Homo sapiens: one gene and its partner. The protein of the gene in region 1 purifies or fractionates together with the protein of each later gene. This does not show direct contact. Each region holds a gene or a part of one and is shown on either strand. Other genes may lie near its edges.

Region 1 (3,794 bases):
CACCAACTCTCAAAGAAGGAGCACCACTCTTTCCTCCGGCTGCCAAGTAACCTAGTAGGTTCTGCCTAAGAAAGGGGAGTGCGTGAAGGGGGCCCAGGTAGAGAAGCAGAGGACACAGCAGTTTGCACAAGCTCGAGACAAGCTCAGGAACAAATGGGACCACCTAGAATTGAGGTGTGATTTGGGGAGTGAAGAAGATGGTAGGGTTTGGACTCATTCTTTAGGTGGTGGAGATCCAGAATGTGTTATAAGCAAGGGAGTAACATGACATACTTGGTTTTAGAAAGGGTAGCCAGGCAGCAGCATGGAGAGGGGACAGAAGGGTTTCTAGCCAATCAGAAGACCTGCAGTGGCCTCCGTGAGTGATAAGGAGGCCCCACCCGGGGTAGTGGTAAAAGAGGGATTAGTAGACAAGATCCCACAGGATGTCCCCAGTCAGGTGGCAGGAAGGTGAGGAGTGAGCCTAGTGCTGCCAGGTCTCTGCTCTAGGTGGTTGGATGACAGAGGTATCATTCCTGAGGCAGGCACCAGGCATGAAGAACAGGTCGAGAAAGCGATGAGTACATGTCCAAAGTGCCTGGGGGACACCCGGTCTGATGTGGTGGCAGTGACTGATAGAAGCCCTCCAGTCTGTACTCTTCTTCCACAGTTAGATTAGACCAAGAATTGTAGCCCAAGGTCTTTTGGAATAAAAATCAATTTTCCCAGTCTCCATTGCAGTGAGGTATGGTCATGGGTCTAAATTCTAGACAGTGGAGGTAAGTGGAAGCAACCATGTTGAACCATACGAGTTTAAGTCATGTGCTAAGGAAGGCAGAGCAACAGGACAGAAGAAAGCTGAAGGGAGGTACGTGGATGTGCCCTGGCTGGCTGCATTTACACTTCTCTCTTGCTTAAACCACTACTACTTTGCATTTGTCTTTCATGGCCAAAACTAATTCAACCAGTGCAGATGCCCAGGAGGGTCTAGGGCTTCGGACAGATTGGGCACCTATCCATATCCTAAGCAAAGCCCTCCTGGGATCAACCTTCTGGCCTGCTCTCTCTGGAGGGAGGTCAAACACAGAGGCCCTTCTGTGTCCTCACAGCTCATGGTACGTAGGGGACAGACAGCTTTCTACTTCCTTTGCTCTCTTTGCCAAGCTCTGAGTGCTCCTTGGGGCCAGGGTCTGTTGTCCATGTAGCCATAACAGGGATGCCAGGGCACCTTCCAGGCTAGAAGGAGGCTAGAGGGAGGTTCCAAGACACTGCCTGTCTAAAGCAGTAAACTATAAATAGGGAAATAAAAATATAAACAACCACGCAAACATTACCCTGGAGCTTCCTCGGTAGAGACGGCAAAGCTGATCAAATGCTTGGATTTGCTGTGGATCCAGAACAGGTTCTGAGGTTCCCTGAAAAATAAAAACCGATACGATTAACAACATCACGTGGCTAGGCAGCCTCTCAACTTGCTCTACACGATGCTGAAGCATAACATGGTGCTTCCTTCATTCTCCTGAAAACAATCCATGCTACCAGCTATTAGTGAGATATATACTGAACATGAGTTAGAAATCGGCACGTCCCCTAAGATCCCTCCTTGGTGTGGCTGCAGGTTGACCTGTCTGTGGACCCTTTTCCCAATGGAGTCTCCAAATGTCCCGTATGTATAGGTTCCTTTCAGGTTTCTTGATCCCTCTTTGGCACCATTATGCAGAGCTAGTTAGTTCCTTCCAGCCTTGCATTCCCATGTCCATCACTTCATACGGCCAGCAAAGATACCGCTTTTCTCTGTCATGGTAACAGGAGACGCACTGTCATTTAAAAATCTCATCCCTGTCTCATTATAAAGCTGGTCGCCACCTATGGGGTTGCAAGATTCGTCTGCTGCTTTTGGGAAAAGGGCCGGTCTAGCCTGCTCTTACAGCAGCCATGTTTTGTTCCACCTGTTATTGTGGTGGGACCTGCCAAACTGCGGTTCTTCTCTCAGTGGACCTGATCCAGCTCATATGCAGAGAGAAGAAATGGGATCCTGGGGGAGGCGGCCATAAGCTTTGGAGTCAGAGGAGAATCTGGATACTAGTTCTGACAGTAACCTGCTATGTAACTTTAGGCAAGTCACCTCACTTCTCTAAGCCTCAATTGCCTCACCTGTGGGAAGGAAGGGGTAATGCTTACCTTTTGAGATTACCAAAAATTAAATGAGATATATATTTAAAGTGTCGCCTGCCTAGTACCAGGCGAGGGCTCAGTATACGCTAGCTTTTCTTACAATTCAGAGATACCCATAGTTAAAAGTTGATTTCAGAAGTGTTTTTGTTTATGTATAAGATTGGTAAAAGGACGTTTTTCTTTGCCCTATATCATGAACCTGTCCCAAGCGTCTGCACTGCACAGGTTGGTGGGTAAGAGCCTGCACTGCAGAGTTCATCAGCCTAAGCCCAAACCCTGGCTTTAGCAATTACTAGCAGCATAATCTTAGGCAAGTTCTCCGAGTTGGGTACTTTTTGCTTGTTTGTTTGTTTTTGCTCACATGGGGATAATGACTATAGCTACATCACATAAAGTGGCTATGAAGATTCAAGAAGGTAATGCACACAGAACACGTAGCAGATGCACGGGACTCTGCAAGTTCTCACTGAGCGCTACTAACTAGAGAGCACAGGAAGGCCCGCAGGTACTGCGCACAGAGCCAGTCTCCAAGAAGCAACATCATGTGGCCCTCGTCCTGATGTGGCTACAGAAACAGAAAGGAAGGGGACATCAGAGCAACGTGCACAGGCAAAACTGGGTAATGAAGGAGGTTGGGGGATGTGCAGGAGAGGGTATGCCGAGTGTGAGAGGGAAAACTTTATGGAAATGAGAGCTGCTAAGGTCAGCTCCCTCTGTCTTGCTCACCAGTGCCCAGTACTGTGCTTGCACAGAGCAGCCACAGAGTCATCATCTGCTGATCAAATGAAGGGATGGGAGGGCCGGCATGCAGATTTCTGATTTCTTACTATTTATCACTGGCGTTGTGACCAACCCTCGCCATGCAGTAAGAACACAGGGCAGGGCTCTGACACACTTGGGCTCAATCTGGACTCTGCCCAAGACTAGGTGAGTGGCTCTGGGCAAGGAATTTAGCTTCTCTCAGTCTCAGTTTCTTTATCTGTAAAACTCTACTTTGCAGAATTGTTATGAAAATTAGACATAATGTATGGGCTTGGCATCTATTTGATGTTCAATCAATGGCAGTAATTACTGCGATTGTGTTGTTTATACTCCCAGAGAGAAGTGTCCCCCTAGAAAGAACAATGGGATGAAATCAGGAAACATGGGCTCCAATCCTGTTACCAGCTCCCTGTATAACCTGAGGAGGTCACATCTCTCCTCTGAGTCTTTGTTCCAATTGATCAAAGGGCAATGCCACCTCAGGCCACACTCCACCATCCAGGGAAGAGGTGGGCACCATGAGATTAACAGGCATTTAGGGCATGAAAGTTTCAAGAAAAACAGTAATGTTTACTGAGCCTAATCATGGCTTTTATCTTTTACTGCATATTCAGAAGCAAATTAGGGGCAATGTCACAAAGATACATGGCAGCCCTGAAGATAAGTAACAGTTTCCGTCTACAGATGCCAAATTAAGGTCAGACAAAAAATAAAGGGGAAGCAACCAAATATGAACATAATCTCTGTTCACTCCAAAAACATAAAAGTATTCTCAGACCACTAAACCTCCCCAAGGATAAAACTGGTTAGGAGTGATTTTCCAACTGGAAGAGAAGGAAAAATGCATTTGCTGCTGTCTGTTAGAGCAAATTTCTTTC
Region 2 (3,825 bases), on another chromosome or scaffold:
AAAACAGTTTTATTAATCAAATGCTAGCAGCTGGGGACTGGCCAGGCTCATGCCCTCAAAAGACCATTTCAACTTTTTGGGCTGAGTGAAGGGGTTTAAAAAGGAAAAGGTGTGGAAGAGATGCAGGAGTGGTGCAGGTCTGAATGTCTTGTTGTGATAGTTATATTGAGTAATTGCCCATCTGGAGGTATGGTTTGTGTCATCTTGACTTCAGCTGGGTAATGCTAGGCTAACTGTTCGAAACTCCCCCCATGCAAGAGGAGTCTGCAACTCCATCTCTGCTTGGTTTGTTTCAAAACTGGCCCCTGAAATTTCTAAGCAAGTACGTAATTAGATAAGTGAACACTGTTCATGGACATGCCTGGTGGGAAAGGGAGAAACTAAGGGTTTCAAAGTATGCTTCCAGGCTGAAAGCAAAAAGGAAAAAAAAATGTTCTAAATTGCATTTTGAGGGTTGGATACTCGGTCTATGAAAAGTGATGAATTAGCTTCTCTATTAGTAAGACTTTATAACATCTATATGTTTTTAAATTTTTACTTATTTATTGGTAAAGAAGCATTTAAATGTGGCAAGGTCTCTGACAAAGTTCTTAGTAACAATGTAGGAAGATGACTATAGTGCAACTTTGTGAAATTGACTTGCTAAAAGCAAATTGTTAAGCAGCTGGCTTAAAGCTTTTAGTTTCTCTCCCTCCTTGATTGTTTTTAAGAACTAAATACTCATATAGTTTGTAATATGTTCTGTTGTTTAGGCTTAGTTTATTATGATCAAATATTCTTGCTTTTTAATGACAACAAATACAATTTCAGAAACTAAAGAGTATCAAGAACCAGAGGTTCCAGAGAGTAACCAGAAACAGTGGCAATCTAAGAGAAAGTCAGAGTGTATTAACCAGAATCCTGCTGCATCTTCAAATCACTGGCAGATTCCGGAGTTAGCCCGAAAAGTTAATACAGAGGTAACTTTTCCACTAAAGTACAATATTGCTTTTTTGTTCATAATGCATTTCCGAAGGTTGATGATCATATTAAATGTTTTCTTTTATTAAATGTGTATGATATTTAGTAGAATAGTTTATTTAAAGGTTTTTAAAATCATTTATAAAGTGGTGATCAGTAGCAGTCATACGTTCAGTAAGTCAGGCTAAATTATTTTCTATCTTCGATAGTGTTTCTAGATTGCCGATAGACTGGTGCTATGGGCCAAATCTAGTTCTTAGCCTGATTGTGTAAATAAAGACTTACTGGAACACTGACACACTCATTCATTTAATGTCTATGGCTGCTTTTGCATTATAAGAGCAGAGTTGATTAGTTGTATTAGAGACCACTTGGCCTGCAAAGTTTAAAATGTTTACTATCTGGTCCTTTACCGAAAACTGTATGCTGATCTCTGAACTAGCGCAGTGCTGTCCCAAGCACTTAACAGTTTCCTGTGGTCATACTCATTGATAAAAATAGAAAAATATAGCCTAGACAACGTACATGAATTTGTAACATACTGAGTCATCATTCCTGGTGGCTTTTCGGAAGGAATGATCAAGTAGGATACTAAAGAGCTATAGCTGCAGTTCATGGCCATAGTTTCCTTACCATTTCTTTTCAGTGACTTGTAGTAAATATAGTAAAGGCTTTATTAATTCAGTGGTTCTCAAACATTTGGCCTTTTATACTCTTAATTATCAGTGCCCCTAAAGAGCTTTTGTTTATGTTGATTATATCTATCTCTATTTACTATATTAGGAAGTAAAGCCAAGAAACTTTAAAAATGTTTATTAATTTATTAAAAATAACTGAGGGCTGGGCACGATGGCTCACGCCTGTAATCCCAGCACTTTGGGAGGCCAAGGCGGGCAGATCACGAGGTCAGGAGATCGAGACCATCTTGGCTAACATGGTGAAACCCTGTCTCTACTAAAAATACAAAAAATTAGCCGGGTGTGGTGGTGGGCGCCTGTAGTCCCAGCTACTTGGGAGGCTGAGGCAGGAGAATGGTGTGAACCCAGGAGGCGGAGCTTGCAGTGAGCAGATATCATGCCACTGCACTCCGGCCTGGGTGACAGAGCGAGACTCTGTCTCAAAAAAAATAAAATGAAATAAAATAACTGATAAACTCATGTGAATATAAATGTACTTTTATGAAAAATATGTATTTTCTGAAACAAAATAACTACAGTGGGAAGAGTAGCACTGTGTTAGAGTTTTTACAAATCTAATGATTGGCTTAACAGAAGACTAGATTCTTATGTCTGCTTTTGCATTCAATGTATTTCATTATTACATGTCATACAGTCTCTGGAAAACTCCTTATATACTCATGAGAAAATAAAAGTGAGAAAGGTAAATATTGTCATAGTAAGATCTCTTAAGTAGTAGATGTAGATAACAAATGCTAGATGATAAGGATCCTGATAGGTTGAGTCATAGATTGTATCAAACCAGCATCTCCTCTTTTTTTTCTATTTGAAAATTGTACACTAATAGGATTGTAAGGGAACTGAAAACCATATGGATCATTAAAGAAATGCAAAGCAAAACCATAATTAGATACTACTTCACACCCACTAGGACGGCTGTAATTCAAGAGACAATAACAAGTGTTGGCAAGGATGTGGAGAATTTTAGAACCTTCATATGCTGCTAGTGGGAATGTAAAATGGTGCAGTCATTTTGGATAAGAGTCTGGGAGTTCTTCAAAAGGTTAAACGTAGCTTTATATGATCCAATAATTCCACTCCTAGGTTTGTAGTTAAGAGAATTGAAAACATACATCCACACAAATATTTGTACATAAATATTCATAGCAGCATTTTCATAATTGCCAAAAAGTGGAAATAACAAAATATCCAACCGATGAATGGATAAAGAAAATGTGGTACATCCATACAATGGAATGTTAATCAACAATAAACAGTAATGAAGTACTAGTACATGTTACAACATAAGTGAACATTTACAACGTGCTAAGTGAAAGAAGCTCACCACAAAAGCCCATATATTTTATGATCCCATTTAGATAAAATGGTCAGAATAGGCAAATCCATAGAGGTGGAAAGTAGATTAGTGGTTGCCAGGGGCTGGGAGCAGTGGGGAGTGGGGAGTGATTGCTAATGGGTGTGAGTTTTCTTTTTAGAAGACGAAAATATTCTAAAATTGGATTGTGGTGATGGTTGCACAGCTGTGAACCACTGAGCAACTAAAAACCATTGAATAGTACACGTAGAAAGAAAAAGTATAGAATCTAGGCAGTTTCTTGTGGATACTGCTTGTCCAGCAGTCCCTTCAAGGGAGGATTGTTTTTGTCTCACATCTCACTTACCATATGGCTGTGTGCTCTCTGTTCTGTGTCCAGACCATTTCTTCCTCTTTCTTGCAAAAGGCCTGCTCTTTTGATACTTCTGACTTACTCTCATCTCTGAATGTCCTGGTAACTCCCCATCATTCCTTGAAGATACAAGGCTCTGGATCAACCAGATCCCAACAACTGTCATTGTTTTTGTTGGCTTCTACACCCCTGTGTATTACCAGTCCTACAGCTGGCCTTCATTTTTCTAACTTCTTCGTGTCTCATGACCATTTCCTTAATTTTACTTTAGCCACCTACTCCTTATATCCTCAATTCTGACCTCCAAAATCGCAGATGCTAACATTCCACTCTATGATCGTGATCTTTTTCATTTTCCTTGTTCATTAATCTTATTACAGCAGTTCCTCAGTAACATCTTTACCACTAATCTTAAAATATGTGCGTGCTTGTACGTGAGCACAGACACACGAAGTCTTAAATGAGAGGGAAAATTTATCCTGGAAAAAAAATTTCTTGGC

Evidence for each region.
Region 2: the proteins of VPS8 (region 1) and TTK purify together in Homo sapiens (affinity purification with mass spectrometry; one large-scale study listed by BioGRID and IntAct). This does not show direct contact.

The regions. Positions count from the first base shown.
Region 1 is NC_000003.12:185,046,079-185,049,872, reverse strand, and holds part of VPS8 (vacuolar protein sorting-associated protein 8 homolog), read right to left. Parts: intron 1,395-3,794; coding exon 1,314-1,394; intron 1-1,313. UniProt on the Homo sapiens protein: Plays a role in vesicle-mediated protein trafficking of the endocytic membrane transport pathway.
Region 2 is NC_000006.12:80,021,514-80,025,338, forward strand, and holds part of TTK (dual specificity protein kinase TTK), read left to right. Parts: intron 1-810; coding exon 811-959; intron 960-3,825.